Regions from separate parts of the Homo sapiens genome. Here region 2 is linked to region 1. Evidence: fine-mapped expression QTL. A gene starts in region 1. The other region holds a variant in brackets. All regions are shown on one strand. Distances are from middle to middle. Region 1 holds the start of PRKAB1-AS1 (PRKAB1, TMEM233 and CCDC60 antisense RNA 1). Region 2 overlaps CIT (citron rho-interacting serine/threonine kinase).

What was found. PIP is the estimated chance that this variant, and not a neighbour inherited with it, causes the effect.
Region 2: its variant is the best candidate, but not a certain one, in a credible set for the expression of PRKAB1-AS1 in whole blood (Lepik 2017, PIP 0.52).

Annotation. Positions count from the first base shown.
Region 1 is chr12:119,661,980-119,677,201 of GRCh38, forward strand. It overlaps PRKAB1-AS1 (PRKAB1, TMEM233 and CCDC60 antisense RNA 1), which reads right to left and starts at 6,148. Exons shown (of 3, transcript NR_188494.1): 1 at 5,964-6,148. PRKAB1 (protein kinase AMP-activated non-catalytic subunit beta 1) reads left to right here and starts at 6,154. Exons shown (of 7, transcript NM_006253.5): 1 at 6,154-6,424; 2 at 10,322-10,485; 3 at 11,985-12,078; 4 at 12,361-12,475; 5 at 14,558-14,691. The coding sequence starts at 6,266. LOC124903033 (a long non-coding RNA gene) reads right to left here. Exons shown (of 2, transcript XR_007063485.1): 2 at 12,421-14,447. RefSeq lists enhancers at 3,722-3,866, 6,001-6,410, 6,849-7,484, a cis regulatory region at 3,786-3,803 and a silencer at 5,631-5,900.
Region 2 is chr12:119,832,656-119,847,877 of GRCh38, forward strand. It overlaps CIT (citron rho-interacting serine/threonine kinase), which reads right to left. Exons shown (of 48, transcript NM_001206999.2): 6 at 1,431-1,573; 7 at 116-209. Among named protein-coding and RNA genes, the nearest start is that of CIT, 37 kb to the right of the region's middle. The variant A/G (reference allele first, on the strand shown) is at 3,589.

The sequences.
Region 1 (15,222 bases):
TTTCTTTTTTTAACAAAAAGCAGCCTGAAAAATCAAGCTGCAAGCATAGATAAGCAAGCTAGAGGCTTGCATAGGTAAATACCAGCAGCTGTGCCAATAGAAAACAGATAGCTGGAAACCAGGTATATTCAACATGGAGGTTCCCTCTTCCCTTTTCTTTGTTGCCACGTGTGCAGATAACATGGCACCAGCCAGGTTTTTTAAAATTCCATTTGCATAATAAAAGATTAGAGTGGGATGACCAGCCTCTTCACGGGCTATGAAAATGGCACATCTGGTCCAACCAATCCACTACACCCCATGTAAATCATATACCATCTCCTCACGCTCATCCCTAAAACCAACCACACCTTGCCCCAAACCAGGGAAACCCACTCAGGACCCCTTCTTCTGCATGAGGAAGCTCTCTTCCTTCTTTCATCTATTTAACTTTCCACTCTTAAACCCACTCCTTGCATGGCCATGTCTTCAATTTCCTTAGCATGAGACATCGAACCTCGGGTGTTACCCCAGAAAAATGACGCTGCTTCATTAGAGTTAGCACATCCAAGGGGCAAGGGAACTGGCTCCTCTGTGGTTGGCTGAGGGCTTCTCTCAGGGTGTCTTCTCTGGTCCCCTTGGGTTCCCACTTGTGTCGACAAAGCTTTCTCCAGAAGGCCCTCAGAGTTGCACCTGCTCACAGTTAGGAAGTTTGGGGCATGCGCAGAAGGGCACATGCAGATGGGGTATGATGGTCCCAACAGCATATGTTAAAGTGATTATGAAACTTTGATATTCAAATCCCTGGGAGCTTACATTTTAAAGAGATGAGACAGAGACAGACTTCCTCTCATTGTTTTCACCTCCGTTGGATCTTTGCCTGGATACTGCTTTAGTTTGTCACTTGTCCTCTAGAAAAGGGGTAGAAAGTGTACATCCTTTTCTCCTCCATTCCTTCAAAGCTCTTAAAAGAGGATAGAGATGCCAGGTGCAGTGGCTCACACCTGTAATCCCAGCACTTTGGGAGGCCGAGGAGGGTGGATCACCTGAGGTCAGGAGTTTGAGACCAGCCTGGCCAACATGGTGAAACCCCGTCTCTACTAAAAATACAAAAAGTAGCCAGGCGTGGTGGGGTGCGCCTGTGGTCCCAGCTACTTGGGAGGCTGAGGCAGAAGAATCGCTTGAACCCGGGAGACGGAGGTTGCAGTGAGCCGACATTGCACCACTGCACTCCAGCCTGAGTGAAAAGAGTGAAACTCCATCTCAAAAAAAAAAAAAAAGAGGATAGACTTGAGGTGAACTTTATTAAGAACATTGTGTTACCTTGAACTGGGCACTTCTCCCTTCTAGGTTTCAGCTTACCCTGTGAGTGAAGCTATTTATTTAAAAAAAACTTTATTGAAAATAAAATAAAGATACAGGAAACTACACAAAAGAAATGTATGGCTTAGTAAGTTACTACAAGGCAAACATGTTAATAATTACCAACCCAGGTCAAGAAACAGAATTTTCTCAGACAACCTAAAAGTCACAAAATGAGGCTATTTGCCAATTAAGGTTGTAGACCAAATGCTGTAGAATGAACTTCTTTTAATTCTATGTTGATGACTCTCTGTCACAATATTCACATCTCAGTGCAAAGAGAACACAAGAATGTCTAGCAAGAAAAGATGGACAAGTTTCTCAAACATTGGCAGTGTTACTTACATTGGCTAGGCAAAATTCAGAAGGCCTGGTGGAAATCTGGTTAAGCCCTAAAAGTAAGCTTGTAATTCTATCCTAGCAGCCCACACACATTTGAGTCTGTCTTAGTCAGCTCAGACTGCTATAACAAATCATCAACTGGGTGGCTTAAACAACAGAGATTTACTTCTCCCAGGTCCGAAAGCTGGAAGTCTAATATCAGTGATATAATTTGGATACTTTTCCCCCTAAATCTTACACTGAAATGTAATCCCATGTTGGAGGTGAGGCCTCCAACATGGTGGGAGGTGACTGCATCATGGAGGTGGACTTCTCATGAATAGTGTAGCACCATCGTCTTGGTGCTGCCCTCACAAGATCTGGTTGTTTAAAAGCGTGCGGCACCTCCTCCCACTTTTTTTCTTACTCCCACTCTTGCCATGTGATACATCAATACATCGGCTCCCCCTTGGCTTCCTGAGGCCTCACCAGAAGCAAGCAGATACCCAGAGCCATGCTTGCTGTACAGCCTACAGAACCATAAGCCAAGTAAACCTCTTTTCTTTATAACTTACTCAACCTCAAATATTTCTTTATAGCAATACAAGAATGGCCTAATACAATCAGGGTGCCAGGATGGTTGATGTGTGGTGAGGGCTCTTTCCCTGAGTTGCAGATGGCCGCCTTCTTGCTTTGTCATCACATGGCCTTTCCATTGAGCATGGGCGTGAATAGACAGCATGCGAGCAAGCTCTCCAGCGTCTCTTCTTCCCATAAGTACCCTGATCTCATCATGGGGGCCCCACTCTCATGAGCTCATCTAACCCTAATTACCCCTTGAAGGCCCCACCTCCAAACATTATAAAATTGGGAGTGGGAGTGCAAATGTATGAATTTTGGGGGGATACAATTTAGTCTACAGCATAGTCCAAATGTGAAATTTCTTCCTCCAGCTACCGATGTTTAGTGAGAACACTGCCTGTTCTCACCACATGTGCATATGTGTGTGGACTCTTTCCTCTGGAGGGCAAGAACTTGGTTTTGTTCACTGTTGTAACCAAGAGTTACAACAGTGCCTGGCTCATAATTGGCACTCAATATTGCCATTGAGTTATTTGTGATCAGAGCCCTGGCTGTTCTTAGATGGGGAGGGTTCTTCAGAACAGTACAAATGTTTGTAGACAGGCCAGCTGGGGAACCAAAGGTCTTTTTGATGAGGTGCCATGACCATGATGTAGTGGGGAGTGGCCAGGTGATCCAGAATTCAGTCTCAGTATGACCTATGATCATCTGAGTGACCTCAGGCAAAACTGTTCGATCTCTGGGACTTAGACTCTTCCTTATATAAAACAAATGGGTTGGTCAGTTCAGAAGTGCTATACTGATTCTAATCCATCCTATGGAGGAGGCCCCAAAACATTATCCTTAACCCTTTTAATCATAAATTTAAGGATAAATGAGATTTTATCTCACTCTGGGTGACTTTTAAGGACTTGAAAACCTACTTCTTTTTGTGCTTGGAGCTGGAGTGAATTTGAAGCCAGGGTTGCGGGGGTGGGGGAGGGGTACTCCTAGCTGTGGCTGTGTTAAAATTGCCCTGGTTTGTTTGGGGGAGAATCTAGGGTATTTATCATTTGTCTTTGCCCTGGTGCCAGACAGACAGCAGTGAGTAGATGATGCCTTTTACACAGCAATGTGCTAACAGTTATACTTCCTGGCACACCTCCAGCCCCCAAGATGGAATGGTCTGACATCCATATCAGCAGAGAATCAGAGAAAGATGAGACGCTCTGATGCTTAGGAAAGTCACAAACCATTGTTACACAGATAAGTAACACAAAATGACCCAAGAGAGACACAGCTGGGACCCAAGTAGACACTTGTAATTGGCGAGTCTACCCTACCCATGATTTTCAATATGGGGTCAATAGCTGATAGATACCAATGTTAGTTTCTTTGTCATGAAATCTTGATACAATGTGGTAAGAGTTTCCAATCAGCAGTTGGTGGCATCCTCAGGATATTGTTGATTGTATTTGACATCAAGGGCCACCCATGCTTTCACTGTTATCTTATTCAAGCTAGTGCAGATGTCTTAAAACTTTCTTCATGCATCAAAGCATCTGCATAGCTCAGATAAAGAATCCACAGCTCATGTGTTCTTTCTTATCTCTCCGGCTGTTTGGGAGAGATTTCAAAACTCAACACCCCACTGTCTCATGTAACCAAGTCAGGGCCACTATTAGAAAAGCAGCTCAAAGAAGATATCCTGGGTCATCCACAGTATCTTAGCTTATTTAATTCAGCAAGCACATTCAACATTTCTGATTATACTGAATACATTCAAATTCTCAGTCATCAGCTTCAGGAAGACCCTCCTGGCTCCCATCCCTTTTCCTGGCTCCCATCCCTTTTCCTGGCCTGGCTTAAGTCCCTTCTGGGCTCCCACAGGATCCCTTACCTAGCTATATTATTGCTTTTCTGTGGGTCGGTGCCAGCCTGTACTGTATTAATTCCTTTGGGGCTGGAACCATATCTTATTTTTTTAAATTAAAAAGTAGTACATCCTCACAATAGAAAACTTTTCAAATACAGAACTATATAAATGAAAAGTGAAAGTCCCTTTTCTGTCTGCTCCTATTTGCAATCTCCCTCCTCTCCCCACAGAAGACCACTATTAACAATGTGTTGTATACCCTTCCAGAACTTTCCATTTGCTAGCCTAATAGTGCTAATAAAAGTGTTAACAGTTATTGAGTGTTTACTAAGAGTCAAGTGCTATGCTCAGCATTTTTATGCACGTTCCCAATTAATTCACAAAACAAGCCTATGAAGTAGGTGTTATTTTTGTTCCCATTTCACAAAAGAAGAGACTAAGGTGACAGTTACTAAATGGTAAAGCCAGAATCTGAACATGGCCAGGCTGAATTCAGAGCTCCTGCCCTTGAACTTGTTCTCTCACTTGCTTCCGGACCTTGCAATATCATAGACACTTCCCCATAGTGACCTAAAAATGGTTTCTCCCTTTTTAAAAGTTGCTTGGTATTCTACAAAATGAATGTATTCCATTCATTTTGCCATTCTCCTACTGAACAACTTTTAGGATTTTGTAGTTTTTCATTTCCTTATTTCACCAAGTGTAAGATTCCATTATTGTAAAAAGCATCCAGTTTCAGAAATTAAAATATATGGGGGCATGGGGGGTGACAAGTGCATCTTAGAATATATTTTTGCATGTAAATATTTTGTAGATAATGCTTGTAAATAATTTTCATGTGTGTATTTCTGCACAAGTTTCCTAGGAGTAAAATTGTGTGTCAAAATGAAGGTGCATTTTTAAATTTTGATGCATACTGCTGAATTCCCCCCAGGAAACCTTATCTTAGTCATCTTGTGTTCCTCATTTCCTTAGCACAATGTCTGGTACTTTTTTAGGTACTAAATAAATGTTCAGTGGGTGAAATGCATGACCTGACCCGGCAAATGCAAAGTATTTTGAGATATTCACACACCAAAAAACCCACAAAATATGACAATGACTGACAATGAGAAGATGAGAATATTTTACTACCGTATTTGTATGCACTTCTTGTTGAAGCACTGACCAGAGTAAATGACAAACGCTAATGCATCTTATGCAGAAGGATGTTTCCGAAGTGATTACAAGATATCTTGCAAAATTACCTATCAAAAGATTGCACACTCAATAAAAATACACGAATAACTCCAGCATTTTACAACCCCCAACCTACTAGACATAAGAAATTTCCAGAGATCTTATGGTCTGCCATTTTTTCAAATACCTGCAAGACTGCCTGCACCCCCGACCCTAATCTGTAGAAATCATGATTCTGCAGGTCTGCAGTGGGGGATGCATTTAACAAGCGCTCCAGGTTAACCTAATGCACTGTAAAGCGTGAGAACACGTGCATTAAAAGGGCTTTAAGAAGTGGAGTTTCTGAATCAGATTTGCATTTTAGAAAGATCCCTCTGGCTGCAGAGTGTAGAATCAACTATAAGTGAGCAAAGATAGCTAAATGGCATTATTCAGCCCAGCGCATGAACGGCTCAGATTGCCCGCGCGCTGGGGTGCCCCCTGCCGGCCCTCGGCAGCGCCTCGTCCTGGGCCTGGCCCTGGGCGGCCGGCTGCTGACTGCGACTGCGCGCTCCGAGGCCTGCAGAGACGGCCCGGGGCACCTGTTACCGCACCGCTCAAGACCGGAAGCGGAAATGGAATCGAGATAGCCTCGCGCGTTTAGCTGGCCGCCGCCACCTCCACGCCCTAGGCCGGGCCGACTTACGGAGTCGCCGGAAGCGGAAGTCGCTGAGGGGTGGTGAAGCGGTTGGGAAAGTGTCGGTTTATCTTCGCGCCCCTTGCGTTCTTGCCGCGGCTTGCCTGGGCAGGTAAAGCGCGATTGCGAGAGCTCGGCAACCCTGCCGACTCAGCCGGAACCGGCTCCCGGCCCGAGGGGCGTGGTGTCCTGGTGCTCCGACTCCTTCCGCAGGCTCCTTGGGACCCGCGGTTCCGGGAGTCCCTTGCTCAGGGTCCCTTTCCTGCAGTGAGGCGCCGTCCGCCTTCCCTGTGTCCCCGCAGACCCCCATCATGGGCAATACCAGCAGTGAGCGCGCCGCGCTGGAGCGGCATGGTGGCCATAAGACGCCCCGGAGGGACAGCTCGGGGGGCACCAAGGACGGGGACAGGCCCAAGATCCTGATGGACAGCCCCGAAGACGCCGACCTCTTCCACTCCGAGGAAATCAAGGTGCGAGCGGTGTGGAGGAACCCGATTCCCCTTGACTAATGTTGAGGAGAGGAACCCTCCACTAGATTCCCGTCACATCCTTTCGAAAAACACCAGAACGGAGAGGGAGGTGGTACATTACCCGGTGCACTTAAAAGCCAGATGGTCCTGTAAGAGTTCTCTTAGCGGTCCAAGAACCTGTGTCTAATTACCAATATGAGAAAGTCACCCTGAGGGAGGAGGTGCTCACTTGGTTTAACATCATTAAGGAGAAAGCAGCTCTGGGACAGAGTTTCAAATTCTTAATTAATTCAGAGTCGAGCTAACAGTAATTGAGCCCCAGCTTCTGCTTTTCTCTTAGGTGTAATTAATTGCACTGCTTTGAGACAAATTCCCTCACCTTTACACAAACTGGAGCTTTTGTAAAAGTTAGTTTGGGAATTTATCCATTTTGGAGGCAAACCAGGTACATATACAAGCTGAAAGTAGAGCGGAACAGCTGACGGCAGTTGCCAGAGGTGTTTAGTTCTGCCCAACACTTTTGATTCACCCTACTTATTTTTTAAAAGACGGTGGTCTCACTAATTAGCCGGGCGTGGTGGCGGGCGCCTGTGGTCCCAGCTACTCGGGAGGCTGAGGCAGGAGAATGGCGTGAACCCGGGAGGCGCAGCTTGCAGTGAGCCGAGGTCGCGCCACTGCACTCCAGCCTGGGCGACAGAGCTAGACTTCGTCTCAAAAAAAAAATATAAATAAAAATAAAAAAGACGGTGGTCTCACAATGTTCTCCAGGCTGGTCTCGAACTCCCGGGTTCAAGCAATCTTTATGCCTTGGCCTCCCAAAGTGCTGGGATCGCAGGCGTGAGCTACGGTGCTGGCCGGTTCAGCCTACTTTTTTTTTTTTTTGAGACCGAGTCTCGCTCTGTCGCCCAGGCTGGAGTGCAGTGGCGCGATCTCGGCTCACTGCAAGCTCCGCCTCCTAGGTTCACGCCATTCTCCTGCCTCAGCCTCCCGAGTAGCTGGGACGACAGGCACCCGCCACCACGCCCGGCTAATTTTTTATATTTTTAGTAGAGACGGGGTTTCACCGTGTTAGCCAGGATGGTCTCCATCTCCTGACCTCAGGAGATCCGCCTGCCTCGGCCTCCCAAAGTGCTGGGATTACAGGCGTGAGCCACTGAACCCACCCTACTTATTTTTTTTTTTTCCTTCTTTGAGATGGAGTCTCACTCTGTTGCCCAGGCTGGAGGGCAGTAGCACAATCTCGGGGCACTGCAACCTTCGTCTCCCGGACTCAAACCATCCTGCCTCAGCCTCCCGAGTAGCTGGGACTACAGGCGTGTGCCACCATGCCTGGCTAATTTTGTGTATTTTTGGTAGAGGTGGGGTTTCGCCATGTTGCCCAGGTTGGTCTTGAACTCCTGACCTCAAGTGATCCGCCCGCCTGGGCCGCCCAAAGTGCTGCGATTACAGGCATGAGCCACCACTCCCGGCCTCACCCTGCTTTTTTTTAAAGCGTACATAGAAAAGTCTTTCAGCTTCTAGAGGTCAGTGGGCGGTGAGGGTCTGTCTGAAGGAGGCAGCCAGCAGCTACTGAACTTCTCTCTAGTGTTGTTTAAATATGACTTAATCGTGCTTAAGCAGGCCAGTGCAAACATTTTTCTTCCTGCTGCAGCCTGTTTAAATTCAAAAACTCAGGTGACTTAACTCCTGCTTCAACCACACTCCTGTTAACCACCTTCATATGGTGGATATTTCCAGCCGCAGGGCTCAGTCCAAGGACACTTAGTGATTCTGGCAGCTGGTATTTATGTGTTATGTCCAAAAGGAACTAATTGTTTCAAGGAACAAAGTAGGTTTAGGAAAGATAAAGCTGCCCTCTGCCCAACATACCCTGTTAGTATCCAATTTCATGTTAATCATCATCCATTTAATTGCTTGGCAGCTCATTCCATCTGTGTTTGTCCTCATGTTGAGCGAGGTGATCACATCTCACACCTTCTTTTGGATCTTAGTTTTGAGCCTGACTACAAAGAGGCTGCTTTTATGTGGCCCTACAACCTGTGGTTTGAACTTGCTCTCTGAATTTGTTGCATTCTTGAAGAGCTGTGTGCAAAGTGAACTTTAGAATCATGTTTCTCTAATGACTTGACGTCCTTTCCCCAGGAGGTAATTTTGGTCCCTGGTCCCAAGAAGGCTATTTAAGACACCAAAGGAATCAAAACTACTTTCTTCAGAAGTATTTGTTCTGTTACTATTCCAAAACTCCTCCAGGAAATGTTGAGCACACACATCATCTATGGGGAATGATTTCAAGCAGCGTCCATTCTCACTTCATTAGAAGTTACTGAAATCCCCAGATACCAAAAAAGTCGTGAATTCTTTTAACTACACTAGGGTGCTATTTTGGTCATAATTAGTTATCCTTAGTGTGAAGTGATTCCAGTCTGTTATTTAATATGTAGATCTTGTTAGAATTCAAAGAATACAGGCATCATTTGGATAAGCTGAGGTCGGTATTTGAGATGAAGGTGCTAGAAGCCTGCTTAACTCCCTGAAGAGTCTTTTCCAGCCTGAACCTTCTGCTCTTTTTAAGTCTTTGGCTTCTGACTGGGAAAAAATCTAAAAGGTGCATGACTACATATGTCATCCAGATAGATTTGGATGAGTTTATTTCTTATTCTGGAATACCTCAGTTATACGGAGCTTACCACACTGGAGGTTATCATTTATCCTAATGAGGGTTCAGTCTTTGTCTTGCTTTATTCCCCAGTCCCTAGACAGAACTTTGTGAGTAGTTTTTCCCTTCCTCAAAATCTGGATTTGCCTATTTTCAAGTTGACAGCTCTAGAATTGTTCCTCTTAAATTTTCATGTACAGTCATACATCACTTAATGACAGGGACATATTCTGAGAAATACATCATTAGGTGATTTTATCATTGTGTGAACATCATAGAGTGTACTTACACAAACCTAGTCTGTTCTCATGCTACTATGTAGAAATACCCGAGACTGGGTAATTTATAAAGAAAAGAGGTTTAATTGACTCAGTTCCGCATGGCTGGGGAGGCCTTAGGAAACTTACAATCATGGTAAAAGGCACCTCTTCACAGGACGGCAGAAGAGAATGAGAGCAAGCAGGGGAAATGCCAGATGCTTATAAAACCATCAGATCTCATGAGACTCACTCACTGTCAGAGAACAGCATGGGGAAACCGCCCCCATGATCGATACCTCCACCTGGTCCTGCCCTTGACACGTGGGGATTATGGGGATTACAATTCAAGGTGAGATTTGGGTGGGGACGCAGAGCCAAACCGTATCACCTAGTCTATATGGTGTAACCTGTTGCTTATGGACTATAAACCTGTACAGCATGTTATTCTACTGAATACTGTAGACACTTATTCCACAAGTATATTTAAGGATTTGTGTACTTAAATGTATCTAAACATAGAAAAGATAACAATAAAAATATGGTATAATCTTATGGGACTACCATATACACAGTCCGTCGTTGACTAAGACATCATGCACATGACTGTACTTCAAATCTTGCTTGATTAAGGGAGGAACATGACATTAAGCTAGTCTTGGATTCGTAGTAGCCCCTTCCAAGTGTGTTTCATAGCTTCTTCTAGAATTTTGATGTCAACTTCTTTAATGACAACAATAGCTAATAATTAGCACTCACTGTGTCAGACACTATATAGAGCACTTACATGGACTGTCTCAGTCTTCACAACCTTAAAAAATATATTTCTATTTTGCAGGCAAGGAAACTGAGGCACCACTAGTAAGTTTCCGATCCTAACCATGAACCAAGATAGTAACAGCTGCGTCTTTAGAATGAATTGTCAATATTGTCTGTTGTAGGGAGCTCGCTTATGGCTTTCTGAGTAAACTGCTCTGCTTCTAGGCACCAGAGAAGGAGGAATTCCTGGCCTGGCAGCATGATCTGGAAGTGAATGATAAAGCTCCCGCCCAGGCTCGGCCAACGGTGTTTCGATGGACGGGGGGCGGAAAGGAAGTTTACTTATCTGGGTCCTTCAACAACTGGAGTAAACTTCCCCTCACCAGAAGGTAATTGCCTGGGGAGTGTTCACATATTTGTCTTAACATAAATTCTCTTCTTTCTAAAACATCTCTGAGAGAGAACAGAAAATGGATGTTTCTATAAAATGGATGCCTAGTGGAAAAATAATTTTGCTTAATAAGTCTTAAGGTTCAAATGTTAAACCTTGGTGGTCTCTAGGTTTAGAGTACAGAAGAAAGAGAATATTTCTGTGTCACAGACATCTTTCACTTCAGATCCTCAGCTATCTGTTCGGTCAGGACTTTTCCACAGAAACACAAAAATCTGTCTTAATGCAGTAAGGGAGCACTGGGCTGGAATCTTAGAAACCCACATTTGAGCCCACATTGGCCATGCTGTCAGTCACCTAACGTTAGTTAACCTGAGCCTCAGCGTTCGTTTCTGTAAAGAGGGAATATTGGACCAGATCATCTCTGAGGTTTCATCTAACTTTGACTCTGCGTAATACTTTGTTTGAAAAGTACATGTTGGCTGGGCATGGGGGCTCATGCCTATGATCTCAGCACTTTTGGGGGCTGAGGCAGGAGGATTGCTTGAGGCTAGGAGTTCAAGACCAGCCTGGGCAACATAGTGAGACCCCCATCTCTACAAAAAAATTAAAAATTAGCTGGACATGGTGGTGCACACCTGTATCCCCAGCTACTCGGGAGGCTGAGATGGGAGGATTGTTTGAGCCTGAGAGGTCAGTGCTGTAGTGAGCAGTGGTTGCACCACTGCACTCCAGCCTGGGCAACAGAGCAAGACTTTGTCTCCAAAAAGAAAAGAAAAATACATGCTATGTAGGTGTCATTAGCAAGGATTATAGTAAGACATTTTATCAGGAACCCCAGCATGGACTTCTGTCTTAAGTTGTCAGTGAGAGAACACCTTTAGTGAGTATTCTTGATAAAATGAGGGAGAAAGTGTCAGGCCTATTGTCAGGGGCTGCCTGCTTTCCAGCGTTTCCATTGGAGAAGGAGGGAGCCACTCAGCACAGCAGTCACAGGTCAGTTCAAGCCAGGGGACAAAACAACCCAGTGAAGGGGCTCTTCCGGAGTTTGGTTTTTCAGTCATTAGGCAAGTTTCTTTAGAGAACATTTGAGCTTCCTATTCAATTGATCCCTTCTCCTGCCCAAGGCAAAGTGACAAAGGGTAAAACGAGGCAGCTTCTGTTTATCTTGTGTTGTCATCCTCCTTGGCATCCAGGAGCCTTGCGAGCTTGAGACGCACAAATGCCTGACTGTTGACCTTTTAACATTAGGGATGTGGTTTCCTGGTATTTGAGTAAGGTGAGTTTTCAGGAAACTGTGTCGCACTGCTGCTTCCTTATAGCCTTTTCAGATTGAGGTCATTATGCTGAATTGTCTAAATGGGCTAAAAATGTTTGTTCTCCTGCAGCTGAACTCTTGGTTTTATGTGGAAACGTTTTGTTCTGTAGCTGGTTTGGCAAGTAAGCTCGGGGGGCAGCCCACCCCACGGAAGTCCTCTGCTTCCTTTTTCCTTGCAGCCACAATAACTTTGTAGCCATCCTGGATCTGCCGGAAGGAGAGCATCAGTACAAGTTCTTTGTGGATGGTCAGTGGACGCACGACCCTTCCGAGGTACTCTTCCTCCCACCTCTGGTCCTCTGGGTGCCCGCACATTCCAAACAAATCACCTTCCCAAGAGATTGCCGCTAGGTCCCTTTGCCCAGCTAGTAAAAGTCCCCGTGTGTGGCAGAGCTGAGTAGCAGCACTACCTGTCAGACAGTTGGCATACTTGACCAAGATGAGCAGGGTGGCTAGCCAGGAGATGAGGCCTTCCAGCCAGGAATTCCAAGTCCTCTGAAGAATAACTCCGCAGACCTTCCACGTTATGATTTCTGCCTATCTGTCTCTTCCCAGCCCATAGTAACCAGCCAGCTTGGCACAGTTAACAACATCATTCAAGTGAAGAAAACTGACTTTGAAGTATTTGATGCTTTAATGGTGGATTCCCAAAAGTGCTCCGATGTGTCTGGTATGAACACAGTTATTTTATACCACATGCGTGCAGGTGGGGGCTGTACAGTCTAGACATACTCTTGTTTCTCTTGCCTCTCTTGAGCTGAAGCTGCCCAGTCAGATAGGCATTTATAGCCCCCACTTAAAGGCCACAGAACTTAATTCCTGTCAGGTTGTTGAAATTTAGCCCTAAGGGAGCTACAAGTCATTTCCCTGGTCATCTCAGGTATTCAGTAGGTCTGCTTGGCCACAGAACGCAGACAGCAGAAATGGAACCATAGCTTGATCTCGTGCCAAGGGCAGGGCTGAAGAGGCCCTGGAGGGTGGCACTGAGTCAGTGACAGCCCAGCACTGGGGAAGCCTGTGTCTCATCCCACTTGTGGTGCCTGAAGAATTTCAGCCTGACAGGTGTAAATGGACACCTCAGTGACCTTAGCAGTCACTTATGTGGTACATTAGCACCTTGTCAGAATCCCTTTGGGGAGGATGCGGCTCCCCACGGGAAACAGCCTGCACAGCCCAACTCTCCTTGATGGGAAGCTATTTGGTACAGAAATACAGACCCAGTAAAACTTCTCCATCTTGTAAGAGCCTTTCAGGCATCGAGGTTTCAATAAATTGCTTTCCCTCCAAGCCCCACAGGAAGAAACTACCTGGAACATGATTCATACAGTTCGGGGGAAGAGGGTTGCGATCTAAAGTGTTCCCCTTCTTGGAGGCGGGGGCTTAACAATTCCTGGACTCTGAGGGAGGCAGTGGAAAGATGCCCTGGCAGAATATCTGGCGCCCTAAGAAAACAGATTCCGTTCGTTGACAGGAGAGTTCTTCATCATTGTCTAGTTAGGCCTGGAAGTTCTGCCACCAGGATTTCTTGTTACCAGTTCAGAAATCACAGTGGTAAAATGATCACAATGGGCTCACTGTGGTTGACAGTTTGTTGAGCAGGACTTGGAAATCCGAAATCTGTGCTTTTATCTGGGTAATTAGTCTTTTAGAGATATCATCTAGTTTTTTTGCAGATAGTTGAGAATCAGGGAATGGAGGAAGTGTGCCCAAATATCCTCCAAAATATATAACTTACTGATACATGTAATTTTAAGCCACTTACAAGCTTTTTAGTCAAATTTCCACCTAGGGAAAGGAAACGGACCCCTCACTGATACGAAGCTAATTCCACGTTCTCTACAGACTTCTGTTTCGACACTTACTTCCTCAAAATGTTATTTACTCCTTATGGCTCAGTTTTCTGCACTTCATGCTTTTCTCAGTTTCTTGCTGTGATATGGTTGGGTCACATAAACGGGGCTTGTCCCCTGAAAAATGACATTGAGGGAATTGGCAGAGCTGGGGCATAGCAGATTTTCCCTGGACCAGTCCCAGGATCTGGCGACCAGAACCATCCCACGCGTTCTTTGGATGATGGCTTGGTACCTTCTGGCTGGCCAAACGTCACTATCCAGTGTTCTAGCATTATGAAATCCTGCTCTTGTAGCAGCTTCTCAGTGTATCTGAATAATCCAGATACTCAAGCAAGAGTTTGGAAGGAACTTGAGTGTAATGGAGTTAAAGAGCCTTTAGATATTGGGCTTTCAATTTTCCCCCCCATTTTGAAATGTGCCTCGTTTAGCCTGTTTTCTCCACGGCCTCTGTGTAAACAGACTGCCTCATCTTCTGTTGCATTGCGGCCGGGGGTGCCCATAACTTGGACTTAGCTACTCAATCCTCACTTAGCCTCCAGCTTCTTTGTGGTTTTGCCAGCCCAGCCTGAAGGGAGAAGGAAGTCTTATTCTGCCGTGCGTGTGGGATTAAGTTATCGAGAATAGCCTCCTTGTGATCTGACGCAGACTCACTGGCTGGGCCGTGTCTTCCACCAGGGCATCTGAGTTGACTACTGAGTTGTATGCTAGTCACCCAGATTCCAAAAGGGTTTTCTCCTCTCCTCTATTCTGCACTCTTGGAACCAGTGCATCCTTCAAGAGAATGTAAATCTGCATTGAGGGAACAAGAGACAAGGAAAATGAGATGATGACAACATAAGTAAGGCTGCTCCTAGAATGCCTGATTTTCAAAGTAAAGTCCTGTTACCATCTCCCAACAGAGCTGTCCAGTTCTCCCCCAGGACCCTACCATCAGGAGCCCTACGTCTGCAAACCCGAAGAGCGCTTTCGGGCACCCCCTATTCTCCCCCCACATCTCCTCCAGGTCATCCTGAACAAGGACACGGGGATTTCCGTAAGTATGTGGGCATCTGCCCGGACCATCCGCCGTGGGTCATGTTCAGTTGCTTTCTTTCCTGTGTCCACCTCTTGCAAAGCAGCTGGTGAGCAAGCTCAGTGTCACCCCCTAGTGTGAACTGTGCCGTTCACCTCTGCTGTGGGGATGGGCTGATAACAAGAGGTTCCCAGTGTGGACACCGCTGCCTCGTCTTGCAAAGCCTTTCTGCACTACTCTTCCTTGTCCTTCACGCCTGCCTCAGTCTAAGCCCTGTTCAATTTACATTTCATGACAAACTGTATCACCATCTCTTCTTAGTAAGCTACATGCTCTGGCCCCCACATTTTAGAATCTAGTTTTAATCATTCAATTGCTTTTAGAAATATCAGTACTCCTGGATCAAAATTTGGGATATCTAGGTAACACACATTTCTCCTCCGGGAAATTATTACATGCAGAAAAGAAGTGTGTGTCCTCCTGGATCTTGAAGAACAGCCAGTTCTGTTGTGATTCTGTTTTCTGTTCCATCTAACCTGGATTGCCTGCCCA
Region 2 (15,222 bases), 170 kb after region 1:
TGCCAAAGGCTCCAAAACATTGTTCACCATTTTATCCCAACACTTCCCAAACTTAGGAGGACCAAGAATACTTTTTAGTATAAACTCTATTAAGCTATCTTATTCCATTTTTTACCATCTTGTTTGAATTCATTTTCGCGGCAGATCCAAAATCCACCAGCTTGATGTGTCCTGTGCGGTCAACGAGAATGTTCTCAGGCTTGATGTCTCTGTAAGAAAATCAGGACCATGAATTGCCTCCTCCATCCCAATCAGCAAGCAAGTGCTAACCTAGAATCTCAATTGAGCCAAAAATCTTTGTTTATGTATTCTGTTATATAGACCTCCTCTATTGGTGGATATAAATTATTAGCATACATTTTGCAAAATGAATTTAACCGAAAGGAAGGAAGGAAGGAGAGAGAGAGGGAGAGAGGGGGAAAGAGAAAAAGGGCGAGAGGGAGCAAGGAAGGATAGGAGAGAAAGAAAAGGAAGAGAAATGAAACACATATTATTCAATGGATTATTTCTCCTAGAGACACACATTTCACATGAGGAAAACTAAGGCCAAAAGGAGCTATGAAATTTTCCCAAGGTCATGTAGCTAGGCAATGGAAAAGCTGAGACTCTATCTCAAATTTTGTGATTCCTGGACTAACAATCATTGTATTCCCACAACATTCTCAGATGTACACAAAACATCAGATGAATGAAGACATGAAGAACCACTTACCAACTGAGGATTTTGTAGGCCAGGCATGGTGGCTCATGCCTGTAATCCCAGCAATTTGGGAGGACAAGGTGGGTGGATCATGAGGTCAGGAGATCAAGACCATCCTGGCCAACCTGGTGAAACCCCATCTCTACTAAAAATACAAAAATTAGCTGGGCATGGCGGTGCGTGCCTGTAATTCCAGCTACTTGGGAGGCTGAGGCAGGAGAATCACCTGAACCCAGCAGGCGGAGGTTGCCATGAGCCAATATGGTACCACTGCACTCCAGCCTGGCAACAGAGCTAGACTCTGTCTCAAAAAAAAAAAAAAAAAAAAAAAATTGTAAATTCTAACGGGCAGAGTTAGAGAAGTACAGCTCCATGGTCTTACACTACTATGTGGTATGACATTTCCTTCTGCAAACCAAATTCAGTTCTTCTATCATATAACCCAAAGAACTCATGCAAGAGTTCCCAGTCTTATTTAGCTACATTAATAGATATTACTAGCAAACTTGAGCACATTACAATTCTAGATCTATTGCACTGCTGGATAAGCAAGCTGAAATGTCCTCCATCTTGGAAAGTTTGCTTTCAGCCAGTTATTGGTAGACTGGCTAAAAACTGGATGGGGCGTTATCTTGATCTTGAAATCACTCATCCACTCATTTCCATGCAGGAACTCTTATGCGACACAGGAAAATCCTCAGCATAAAAATGCTACCAGAGTCTCACTTACCGATGCACGTATCCCATCAGATGAACGCTGTGAACAGCCAAAATCAGCTCAGCTAGGTAAAACTGTATCAGGTTTTCATCTAACTGGTCCTCATATCTATTCAAAAGTGACAGCAAGTCCCCTCCAGGCTGATATTCCATGACCTGTATAGAATGCCAAAGTTATTAATTCTTCACACACCCAAAAATAGGGAATGCCTCAATTAGATCCTCGAATATCACCTGACGTGTTATAATAACAAGGTCTCCACAAAGCAAAGAAGATGTGTAAGGCACGCTGTAAGTCATGTAGGATGAAGTCCCTGCCCTAAGGAAATTACATCTGTTACCCAGGGGAATCAATATAATGAAAGACTAGTCCCAGACACCATGCACAGTGTTTGCAAGGCAAGCTTGAACAGTTGAATTAAATCCACCCACTTTCCCACCCACAAGTTGACACCCCAGACATTCCCTAGGATTAGGTACAGTGTAGACGGATATTCCTAGAGGGCAACCACTCTTATATCCTTTCTGTATTCCCCTCAGCACCCAGCAGAATACAGAAGGCTTGCAATAAATGTGATACAATCTTTTCCTTTTATAGTCAGTGTGGAAGGCAACTGACAGCCTCTATTCAAAATTTAAATGTGAAAATATCCCCTTTGACCTAGTAATTCCACTTCTAACAATTTACAGGTACTTACAATAGTTTGCAGATAAATAGAAAGATAAATAGATTCCTTGCAGTATTGTTTGTAACAGGGGAAAAAAACATGGAAATCATTCAGCTATCCATCAGTTAGAGACTGGCTAAAATATGACATATGTAAACAATGGGATAAGACAAAGATATTAAAAACAAACAGATTCCATTTATTCATACTGCCATGGAAAATTGTCCATGACAATATAAAGTGAAATCTTGTAAAGAATAAAGTACAACCCCTTTTTTGAAATAAACAAGGAATTATTACATGTGTTGGTACATACACAGGAAAAAAATCTTGAAGAAGAATATGAAGCCTCAAGTAAAATGTTTGATTAGCAAAAAGAAACTCTTCTACCCCAAGGAACTGAAATCCTTTCTCCTTTTGATGATAAACAGGTGTGATATTCCTGAGTCCCTAGGTAGCTATAAGGCCAGTTAGCCTGGGCGGCTTCAGCCTCCTGCTGGTGACTTCACCTCGCTGCCTTTCAGTTTCATCCTCTCTAAAACAGGGATAAGACTAATCCTCTTGCAGCACTGTGTGAGGATTGAGTAAGACAAGGTCCTAGGAGGGCCTGGCACAGTGCCTGGCACCAACATGAAGTCTTCACCTACCATTCAATTCCCTTTCTTCCCCCCCACTTTACTGCATGATCCTTTCTGCTCTGGCCAGCAAAAAGAACCCATTTAGACAATCGCTGTAGCCATGTTAACCCTTATTGAGTTCTCCTGTCCTTCGCCCTGATTTCCCATTTTATTAGCCATGCTATAAATGTCTTGGAAGTTGTCTCATATGCTTTCTGGGAAAAAGGCAAGATCTGAATATACTTCTTAAAAAAAACACTAAATCTCACAAACTACTGCATTCCAAAAGCCAACTCGGGGATGTGAATTCTCACCATCATCCTCCAAACTCCTGCTTGCTTTTAGTCCAGAATTAGAAGAAAGCTCTAGACAAGTCAGAAGTAGAGCATCTGCACAGAGCCCCAAAGGCCTCAGGCTGGTCCAGTAAAATCTCCAGGAAGTGTGCCCAGCACCAAGGCAACCCCAAACCAGAGACCCCTGGAGAAGCCAGTGACTCGCGCATCCTCCCTGGGGGCTCCTTATAACCTGGGAATCTACTCCATTCACATGGTTTCTGACAACAGCAGACATTAAGCCAGACACTGGACAATTGCATTTGAAGAGTAAGGTTCCACTTGTATAACAATTGCTGAAAAAATTTTGATTTATGGGCTGGGCACAGTGGCTCACACCTGTAATCCCAGCACTTTGGGAGGCCGAGGCAGGCGGATCACAAGGTCAAGAGATCGAGACCACCCTGGCCAACATGGTGAAACCCCGTCTTTACTAAAAATACAAAAATTAGCTGGGCATGGTGGTGCATGCCTGTAGTCCCAGCTACTCGGGAGGCTGAGGCAGGAGAATCACTTGAACCCGGGAGGCAGAGGTTGCAGTGAGCTGAGATCAC[A/G]CCACTGCACTCCAGCCTGGCAACAGAGCGAGACTCCATCTAAAAAAAAAAAAAAAAAAAAAAAAAAAAAATTATGAACAAGAGGAACACTTAGAAGGGGGCAGCACCTAACATACACACCTTCTTTCCCCCAAGTTCCTAGCAGACATTAGTTACTCACCCCAGTCCTCGAGGAGCCCACAGGAGCCACCTGGCTGCCTGTAGCTCACCCACTCATCCCAACCTGGTTCTCCATAGGCCCTGGGTATGTGGGTGAATGCTAATTTATATGTCTGTTTTAAATATATATTGACATCGAAAAGGTCTTAAATATCCAAAAAAAGAAAAAGGAAAGAAATTCACAGATAATAACAGAAGTACTTATACTTTTAGTACTGAAATGTCTTAAAATAAGAACAATGCATATTTATGACGACACGCCACAGTTATAAATTTCCTATGGCTGTATTAAAGATGTGAAAAAAACAGTATGGCTTGTAAGTTTAAGGCTGAGAAAGTCATACGCATAGCAGAGCAGCCACCGGCAACTCTTAAGAACTGACAAACTGAACACAACTTAGTATTTGGCAGCTACTCCTGACATTCTATTTGCAATGACCAGTAAAATAGTTCAGAAAACAAGAGCCAGCTTGTAAAGTGGCAAAAAGACATGTATTCTTTGCTTCCATTCAGAAGATCCAACTTCCTGAACTGAAAATCCCCTCCCAAGTCAGATCAGTCTAAGAGTGGAACAACTTCCCATTTCTTCAAAACCAGGGTTGATTGAGAAAACAAGCAACAAAAATTACAACAGCTGCTACACAGCATGCTTCACAACATGAGGCCAAAACAGACACACTCAATGACAAACCTCTAAATAGACCGGGTCCTTATCAAAGATGCTAATCAAACTTGACCCACCAACACTATTCCAGGTTACCACACCAAAAATTCCAACAGTGCACCATTAGGAGAATGTAAGCCAGACATTTACTAAGTAAATGTGGCTATCCCAAGATGTTACCCATATCCCAAAACTATACTACTGGGGTATAGCTGCTCATTCTAGTATGAATGGAGGCCATGGGGAAGATGGCTTGTGTGTGGCCAACCACAGCTTATTCAATCATCATGCTGTTAGAGCTTAAAGATACAATAAAGACCCAGGACTTGAGTGCTTTCATAAAATACGTTTGGATTGTTAAAATGGTACCAAGAGGTTCCAAAAGCATCATCTAAAGTAACAAACTAGCAGTCTTTGAGTCTTCTTATCAGGTGACTTGCTGTGAACCAAAGAACAGGGTCAGCAGAAAATGATGAAGAAGTTAAGGACCAAGTCGCCACCCAGGTTGTGACCAAGAGTCCATTCACAGCATCTGGTTTTGTCCAAAAATGTAACTCTGTCCCTGACTTTTACTCTTCAGAGATGCCCAGTAAGGCACTGATTCTAAAAACCAGGATAGCCTTGGCTTCTACCCCAAGACAACTGTAGGTCCTCTAGGTTAGAACTTCCCAAGCCTGATTGTCCATCAGAATCACCAGAAGTGCTTGTTAAAAATAAGACAAGCCAGGCATGTTGGCTCATGCCTATCCTAGCCCTTTGGGAGGCTGAGGCAGTACAATCGCTTGAGGCCAGGAGTTTTGAGACCAGCTTGGGCAACAAAGCCAGACCCCACCTCTAATAAAAATTAAAAATTTAAAAGAAAATAAAATAGACTCATCTAAATCAATACTTGAGTGCCTATCGTGCCAGCCACTATTCTAGATGTTAGGGAAACAGCAGTGAATAAAACAGAAAAAATCCCCGACTCCATAAAGCTGACGTTCCGGTATAATGAAAAAGAGTTTTGTTTTTTTGGGTTTTTTTTGAGATGAAGTCTCACTCTGTTACCCAGGCTGGAGTGCAGTGCCACGATCTCGGCTCACTGCAACCTCTGCCTCCCGGGTTCAAGCGATTCTCCTGCCTCAGCCTCCGGAGTGGCTGGGACTACAGGCATGCGCCACCATGCCCAGCTAATTTTTGTATTTTTAGTAGAGACAGGATTTCATCATGTTGGCCAGGCCAGTCTCGAACTCCTGACCTCAAGTGATCCACCCGCCTCGGTCTCCCAATGTGCTGGGATTACAGGTGTGAGCCACTGCGCCCGGCAAGAATTTTAAAATAATAATAAGAAGAAGTATAGTAACATAAAGCATATCTCTTTCCCATCCCAACCACTTAGGGAGCTTAAAGGATTCCAGGGAATAACCCCAGACTTCATGGATCACATTCCATGGGTGGGACCCAGGAATCTATAGTAAAAGGAGCTACTGCGGTGATTCAGAGGCAGCTAGCCCAGCACTGTGTTGGGACCCACTGCTGAGGAGGCTGTGGAACCAATATGGCTCCCTACTCCAAGTGAATTGAAAGTTTCCATAGCAGCAATGCCCTTGATGAAACGTGACTTTCATATAGCCATCACCTCTGCTGCTTATATTTTTTTCAGTGACTACCTGGAGCCTTTCTGCATATCAAGACAAGATCACTGACGACAAAGGGCTGGAAAATAACCAGTCCATCAGCACTGAAGCCAGTGATCTTCCCTCCTTACAAGGACTGGAGATGTCTCCTGCACACACAATGAGCAGCTGCAGGTCACCCAAATGAGGATCACCAAGGCATGGTAATCAAAGGCTGGGGGCACAGGAGGAGGAAAGAGTCCTAGAGTGAAACAGCCCAAAACAATGTGGCAACCCCGCTGATGGCAGAGAAAGCACAGCAGCTGACAGACGAGCCTGGCTTGGAGCTATAATGGACTTGCTCTTTTAAAGCAAAGACTTTCAGGCCAACAGAGACAGACCCTTCTGATGGCAGCAGCTGCAGATGCTAATTAAAGGGCAAATCTCACATGTGTTCAGTTTGGAAGTAGCGGCTGCTTCTCTGTTGGTGTTTGCATCCATACCCCAGTACCAGGAAGGCAATTTCCATCCATTGTGTTGCATTTGAAACGAAGGACAAATGTGTCTGTGCACACGTGCACACACACATATACAATGAACCCACGTGCATGCTTGCATATGCGGGGATGGGGTGAATATTGAACAGTTCTTTAGTACTCTATTCCAATTCACATAGGGCATTAGAGGCATGCTGTGCTAGCCACCTCTTAGAAATGTCTCCTTGAAATGTTTGCACGCTCAGCACAACTGAAAGTGCCGTGAAAATGTAATGACGCTGGCGGCATCGTTATCCGCTCTGCCCAATGTTCCTGATCTTTGGCATGAGGGAGGAGAGAAGGGGTCCTCAAAGCAGAGTGGCCTCTGAGCAGAGTGGCCCCGATATTATTCTTCTTGAGAATAAAAACTCTGTTATTTTCTTCTTGGTCAAAGTGACCAAGAGAAAAAGAGAGAAGCACCTTTATCTTAGAAAACATGAAACCCAGCCTGTTTCATCCATCTATGCGAAAAATCCTCATTGAGTACTGAATCATCCAGAGTCTTGCCAAGAAACAGACAGGACACGCAAAACAGGGAATTGAGGACGTTCATTAGGGAAGGGGCTATTTACAAAGGTTCAGGTTAGGAGAAGAAAAATAAACTTGGGATGATGAAGCACCCCAGGGCTAGCAACAGAAGAGGACCAGATACCATGCCTGGGCCTGAAAGAGCAAGGACAGGGATTTCGGATGTGTACACTATTACTGAAGGGACAAAAGGAAGAAGCTATAACCAGAAACTAACTATAGCTACAGCTATAGAACAATGGTTCTCAAAATGAGGTCCCTACACCAGCAGCAGCATTACCTGGAAACTAGTTAGAAATGCAAAGTCTTGGCCAAGTGCAGTGGCTCATGCCAGGAATGCCGGCATTTGGGGAGGCTGAAGCAGGAGGATCACTTCAGCCCAGGAATTCAAGACCAGCCTGAGCAACACAGTGAGACCCCCATCCTTACAAAAAATTAAAAAGGTGGCAGGGCATGGTAGTATATGCCTATAGTCCCAGCTACTCAGGAGGGTGAGGTGGGAGGACGGCTTGAGCCCAGGAGTTTGAGGCTACAATGAGCTACGATCGTGCCACTGCACTCCAGCTTGGATGACACAGTCAGACTCTGTCTCGAAAAAAGAAGAAGAAATGCAAATTATTGGGCCCCACCCCAGACCTACTGAATCAGAAACTCTGGGGATGGGGCCAAGCAAGCTGGGACAACATAACTGAATTGTGGCTCCTAAAATGGTAGAAGTGTAAATGCACTCACTTGAAACATGCCTCAAAACACCAGAATAAAAAAAAACAACTATTTCAAAGGCACAGAAAACTCAAAGAACCTCCCAAAGGCAACAATACACTCAGCAATTGAATTGAAGTCAATAAGAGGAATTAATATCTCATTTCACCGATAAGAAAATTGAAGCGGAAAAGGCCAGTGACTCTGGAGAGACCAAACAAGGAATGGTAATAAAACAAGAACCAATATTCTAAGTCACAGCCTCATTCTGATGGGCAGCTGGTTTCCAAACCCTGGCTTCAGAAGCAGCAGCATGTGAGCAGGCCTGGTGAGTTTTGAGACATGCCTGAAAAATCAGATAATCTTAGCTGAGAGATCAAAACAGCACATGTCTCACTGTCAAAACTATCATAAGCTGCCACATTTCACTAAAGTAAACAATGAAGTTGTGTTCATTAACTCCCTCCAGATTCCCAATGACAGCATAGCCTGCTATTCATGAAAGCCTAGAAACAGCCCACTTTCAAATTGTTCCTATATAGGAAACAAACGCTGCCCATAAAATTACACAGGTGTGGGTTGAAAGCAAGATAATATAAAGAACTCATCCCAAGCAGGGCATCAGATCCAGTGGTTTCAGATCCAGAAGTATAATGCCTTGAGTAAGAATATGGAAGGTGAAACTACAGGCCTGGCTTCAAAGCTTAGCTGTACCTTGTATCACCTACAAAAGCAGCTGTTTATTTAACCTTTTTTTTTTTTTTTGAGATGGAGTCTTGCTCTGTCGCCCAGGCTGGAGTGCAGTGGCACCATCTTGGCTCACTGCAACCTCTGCCTTCCAGGTTCAAGCAATTCTCCTGCCTCAACCTCTGGAGTAGCTCGGATTACAGGTACCCGCCACCATGCCCGGCTAATTTCTATATTTTTAGGAGAGACAGGGTTTCACCATGTTGGCCAGGCTGGTCTCAAATTCCTGATCTCAAGTGATCCACTTGCCTCGGCCTCCCAAAGTGCTGAAATTACATGTGTGAGCCACCGTGCCCAGCCAAAAGCAGCTGTTTTAGCCTCTGTGACAGACTATTAATTGTGCCCCCAAATCCATCCTTCCCTTATTCCACAGTAATAAGAATTTTAGCTTGACAGAGGCCACACAGCCGACAGTAAATTCCCAGTCTCCTTAGCAGCTAGACGTGCAGTCACATGACTACGTTCTGGCCGAGAAAATGTGAGAGGAAATGATGTGTCCAACTTCCGCATCCATCTATAGAAAAAGAATTTGCTTACTCTGAATTTCTGTTCTTTTTTCCTACCAGGCAGCTGGAACAGAGACATGAAATGGCCCAACTTCAGCCATGTAAAAGAAGACAACATCCTAAGGAAGGGGGGAGTCACAACATGGAAGGAACCTGGGTCCCTGAATTAACACATACAGCAGAGCTGCTCTACCAGCCTGGGTTGTACATTAGGGTCTCTTTGATACAGCAGCTAAGCATGTACCTTAGCTAATACATCTCTACATGCAACCAGGGAAAAACATTTGGAGTGAACACAAGGAAGTCATTGTAAGGTTAGAACATGGAAAAGAAGTTCATGAGTCAATTGCAGGCTCAGAGCAAGGGTAATCTGAAGAAAACCACAGTAGGAAAAACATCAGCACAAATAATTTAGACAAAACAATACTGGCAGGGCACAGTGACTCACGCCTGTAATCCCAACACTTTGGGACGCCAAGGCAGGCAGATCATGAGGTCAAGAGTTTGAGACCAGCCTGACCAATATGGTGAAACTCCGTCTCTACTAAAACAACAAAAATTAGCCAGGCATGGTGGTGTGCGCCTGTAATCCCAGCTACTCAGGAGGCTGAGGCAGGAGAATCAATTGAACCCAGGAGGTAGAGGTTGCACTGAGCTGAGATCATGCCACTGCACTCCAGCCAGGGTGACAGAGCGAGACTGCATCTCAAAAAAAAAAAAAAAAAAAAAAAAATACTGCAAGTGGTGGGATGCAAAACTATGTGTTCTTTGTGAAGATCAGCTCCTTCATGGAAGGACACTGATGAAGGCATCTGTTATGCAGAATTGAACAGATTTCTTCATGAACCAGATCAACAGAGCACTGTTTCCATCAGCCACATGCAGAATACAGGACTAGCTTTGTTATATAGAACCAGACATTATGACAGAGTTTGCGACAATTTTCTATAGACCAGAAAACAATAAGCCACATTCACTGGCTTATTGTGGTATGTCACCACAAATGGGAAATTTTTAACCATCAAAATGCAAAAGAACTCAAGTTCAATTTCCTTGCACTGCATTCCAAATTTTGAAAATCTCACTGAGTCTATCTTGAATTACACACGTGAAAGAAAATAACTCCACTGAGAATATAATGCAAGTTCCGTAATACAATAAGTAAATTTGAATGCACATCAAATTTCTATGAAATTAATCACACATTCATCCAATAAATATTGCTTAAGCATTGACTTGGTAAAGCTCTACTCTCCCTTTATGGATGAAGTAGCCTAGTGGGACAGACCAGCACCCACTCATAAAGGAGAAGTACAGGGTGCAATGAGCGTACAGTCAAAAGGCGCCATTCCAGAAGTATAGGGTCTAGGAAGGGCTTCTGGAAGAAGTGAAATCTGATCCAACCCAGAAAGAGAAAGAGGAGTTAGCAAGGTGAACAGGGAAAGAGTGAACAGCATGGAAAAAGGTCAGAGGCAAGGTCAAAGAACCAAAGGAAGTTCAGGATGTTAAGGTAGAAAGAGAGAAACAGTAAGTGGCTGGGGACAAGTGCAAGAAAGGCCTGGTAAGTCACGTGGAAGAGTCTGGACTTCATCCAGAGGACAGCAGGGAGTCTTGAAGGGTTTCAACAGCGGGCTGACTTGGCTGCAGTATGTGGAAGACCTGGGAGAAGGGCCAGACAGATGGCAGGGAAAATACTTCAGAGGTTATCACAGTAATTCAGAGTAGAGAAGATGGATGCCTGAAACCCACACAGCAGAGGCAAGACTGGAGAGAAGAGACAGCCAGGAGGGATATACCATAGGAGGTAGAATCCTGTTGTTTTTTTCATTGATTTAAAATGTATCTTCAGGGCCAGGCGTGGTGGTTCACGCCTGTAATTCCAGCACTTTGGGAGGCCGAGGAGGGAAGATTACAAGGTCAGGAGTTCGAGAACAGCCTGGTTAACATAGTGAAACCCCGTCTCTACTAAAAAGACAAAAATTAGCTGGGCATGGTGTTGCATGCCTATAATCCCAGCTACTCAGGAGGCTGAGGCAGGAGAATTGCTTGAACCCGGGAGGCAGAGGTTGCAGTGAGCCAAGATCGCGCCACTGCACTCCAGCCTGGGCAAAGCGAGACTCCATCTCAAAATAAATAAATAATGTTCAACTGCCAAGGGAGCGTGATATGTAAGTTTCCCCAAACTTCAAAGGTTTGTTGATGTAAAAGTGGCCAATAGATAGGATGGAATTTCAGGACTGTACGGTACCGATATAAATCTAGGATCCATTTATCTTGAAGCAGAATGGGTTTCCAGATTCAGAATTTTTCAGATTTTAGAAAGGTAAAGTGGTACACACACTTTTTTTTTTTTTTTTTTGAGACAGATTCTTGCTTTGTCGCCCAGGCTGGAGTGCAGTGGCATGACCTTGGCTCACTGCAACCTCCACCTCCTGGGTTCAAGTGATTCTCCTGCCTCAGCCTAAGGAGTAGCTGGGATTACAGGCGCCCACCATCATGCCTGGCTAATTTTTGTATTCTTAGTAGAGACGGGGTTTCACCATGTTGGCCAGGCTGGGCTTGAACTCCTGAACTAAGGTTATCCGCTCGCCTCGGCCTCCCAAAGTGCTGGGATTACAGGTATAAGCCACCGCGCCCAGCCATACATACAGTTTATATTATGTAACACCCTCAGTAGGGTCTGGGACATCACCTTGTAATCAAACACACTCATAATTTTATAGCAAAATGGGAAGTCACACTAAAGGGAATGAATAAAGACTAAAAAGAGCCTTAAGAGAGCTTGGATCAAGTTTTGCCAAAAACTGAGTTCAAATCAGGTTTTGCTGATAAACAAGTAACAAAAGAATTTGAGGTTATTCAGAACTCTAGGTATTTCAGAATTACAGATAAGGGATGGCAGACGTATGAGCATATCTTAATTTCCATGCTAAATTTGAGCTTTTATGTGAAAACTATACCCTTAGCAAGCATTTTACTCAAAAGCAACAAAGTACTTGAGAAGAAAATGGAGACAAGAAAATATTAATAATTACAAAATCCCATCAGTAATACCCAATTGAGCTACAAAACAAGGGAGTAAAAATGTCATTGACCCAAGTAGCAGTGTGCTGAGGCAACCAGAACTCCAAAAAACAGCTGCATTAAGAACCCTCCTAGGCTGGGCACGGTGGCTCACGCCTGTAATCCCAGCACTCTGGGAGGCTGAAGCAGGCGGATCATGAGGTCAGAAGATCGAGACCATCCTGGCTAACACGGTGAAACCCCGTCTCTACTAAAAATACAAAAAATTAAACGAACATGGTGGCACGCGCCTGTAATCCCAGCTACTCCAGAGGCTGAGGCAGGTGAATCACTTGAACCCAGGAGGTGGAGGTTGCACTGAGCCGAGATTGCGCCACTGAACTCCAGCCTTGGCAACAGAGCGAGACTCTATCTCAAAAAAAATAAACCAAAAAACAAAAACAAAAACAAAACAACCTTCCATCTTGCAAGATGGCAGATGGAAAAGCTGAGTAGAAGCTAAGGATGCCGATGCCAGTGGTGAGATCATTGGGGAAGCCTCCTACATCTGGGAGCCTGTCCTAGCACAGAAACCCACAGACAGTCCCAATCCAAGAGGTACTCCGGGAAGGCTATGCCCAAGCAGATGTCCACAGCAGTTAAATCCACAACTAAGAAGACAAAGGTGGCCAGGCGCAGTGGCTCATGCCTGTAATTCCATCACTCTGGGAGGCTGAGGCAGGCGGATCACCTGGGGTCAGGAGTTAGAAACCAGCCTGGCCAACATGGTGAAACCCTGTCTCTACTAAAAATACAAAAATTTGCCGGACATGGTGGTGGGCACCTGTAATCCCAGCTACTCAGGAGGCTGAGGCAGAAGAATTGCTTGAACCTAGGAGGTGGAGGCTGCAGTGAGCCAAGATCCCGCCACTGCACTCCAGCCTGGGCAACAGAGCAAGACTCTGTCTCAAAAAAAAAAAAAAAAAAGCCAGGCGTGGTGGCTCACACCTGCAATCCCAGCACTTTGGGAGGTCAAGGTGGGCGGATCACAAGGTCAGGAGTTCAAGACCAGCCTGGCCAAAGTGGTGAAACCCCATCTCTACTGAAAATACAAAAATGAGCCGGGCGTGGTGTCACACGCCTGTAATCCCAACTACTCGGGAGGCTGAGGCAGGAGAACCCGGGAGGCAGAGGTTGCAGTGAGCCGAGAACACGCCACTGCACTACAGCCTGGGCAACACGGCAAGACTCCATCTCAAAACACACACACACACACACACACACACACACACACACACACAGAAAAAGGAAAGTTATTTCTACTATGACAAAACTAGGTGATGGTAATAAGAACGGTGACATCAAAGTGAGAAATTATCAAAGTGCCCAGATAGTACCCTCCTGAAGATGTGATTTGAGAACTGTTTAGACATGAAACAATGCACTCCCATCAACATGTAAGAAAACTACATTTGGGCATTCCTGCTGGGACTCCTCTGATCATCCTCACTGGCCACAGGGGAGGCAAGCAGTGGTTTCCCTGAAGCTACTGAGCAGTAGCCTGCCACATGGACCACTAAATCCTCAACTGAGTTCCTTCACACAGAACACTCAAAATCTGTCAGTGCCTCTACCAAAATGGACCTTGATGATGTGAAAATCCCAAAGCATTTCAATAATGCTTACTTTTAAGAATAAGTTGCCTGAGACTAGACACCAAGAAGGGGAGCTCTTCAGCTCAGAGAAAAGAAATATGAGTTTATGGAGCAGTGCAAGGTAGACCAGAAAACTGTGGACTCTCAACTTTGGTCCAAAAAATCAAAGCCCTTCCTAATTCCAGGACCACTTAGATTCTGTGTGGCCTTGAAAATGAAGTTTATCTTCACAAGCTAGTGTTCTAAACCTCCTGTAGAGCTCGAATTAAAATATCTAAAAATAGGCTGGGTGTGGTGATTCATGCCTGTGATCCCAACAATTTGGGAAGCCAAGGCAGGAGGATGACTTGGGGCCAGGAGTTCGAAACCAGCCTAGGCAACATAGTGAGACCCTAGTCTCTATGAAAAATTTAAAAATTCGCTAGGCATGGTGGTTTGTACCTGTTGTCCCAGCTAATCAGGAAGGTGAAGCAGGAGAATCACTTGAGCCCTGCAATTTGAGGTTACAGTGAGCTATGATCATGCCACTGCAACAGAGACATCATCACTTAAAAAAAAAAAAGAAAGAAAAAAATACGTATCTAAAACAACAATAACAAACAAACACAAACCAAAACAAACAAAAGCCCTGTTGTTTCAAGGGAACGTCTTTTTTTTTTTTCTTGAGACGGAGCCTCGCTCTGTCACCCAGGCTGGAGTGCACTGGCACAATCTGGGCTCACTGCAAGCTCCGCCTCCCAGGTTCACACCGTTCTCCTCCCTCAGCCTCCCGAGTAGCTGGGACTACAGGCACCCGCCACCATACCTGCCTAATTTTTTATATTTTTAGTAGAGACGAGGTTTCACCATGTTAGCCAGGATGGTCTCGATCTCCTGACCTCCTGATCTGCCCACCTCGGCCTCCCAAATTGCTGGGATTACAGGTGTAAGCCACCACACCTGGCCCGAACTTCTTCTTAATAAAGAAGCCTGAGGCTGGGCACAGTGGCTCACGCCTATAACCCCAGCACTTTGGGAGGCCAAGACGGGTGGATCACCTGAGGTCAGGAGTTCAAGACCAGCCTAACCCACATGGCAAAACCCCGTCTCTACTAAAAATATAAAAATTAGCTGGGCACGGTGGCACACGCCTGTAGTCCCAGCTACACAGGAGGCTAAGACAGGAGAATCACTTTAACCCAGGAGGTGGAAGTTGCAGTGAGCTGAGATTGCATGACTGTACTCCAGCCTGGTGACAGAGAAAGACTCCATCTCAGAAAAAAAATGAAAAGAAAAGGCGCAGTGGCTCACGCCTGTAATCCCAGCACTTTGGGAGGCCAAGGCGGGCAGATCATCTGAGGTCAGGAGTTTGAGACCAGCCCCACCAACATGGCGAAACCCCGTCTCTACTAAAAATACAAAAATTAGCAGGGCGTGGTGTCATGCACCTGTAATCCCAGCTACTCGGGAGGCTGAGGCAAGAGAATCGCTTGAACCCAGGAGGTGGAGGTTGCAGTGAGCTGAGATTGAGCCATTGCACTCCAGCCTGGGTAACACTAG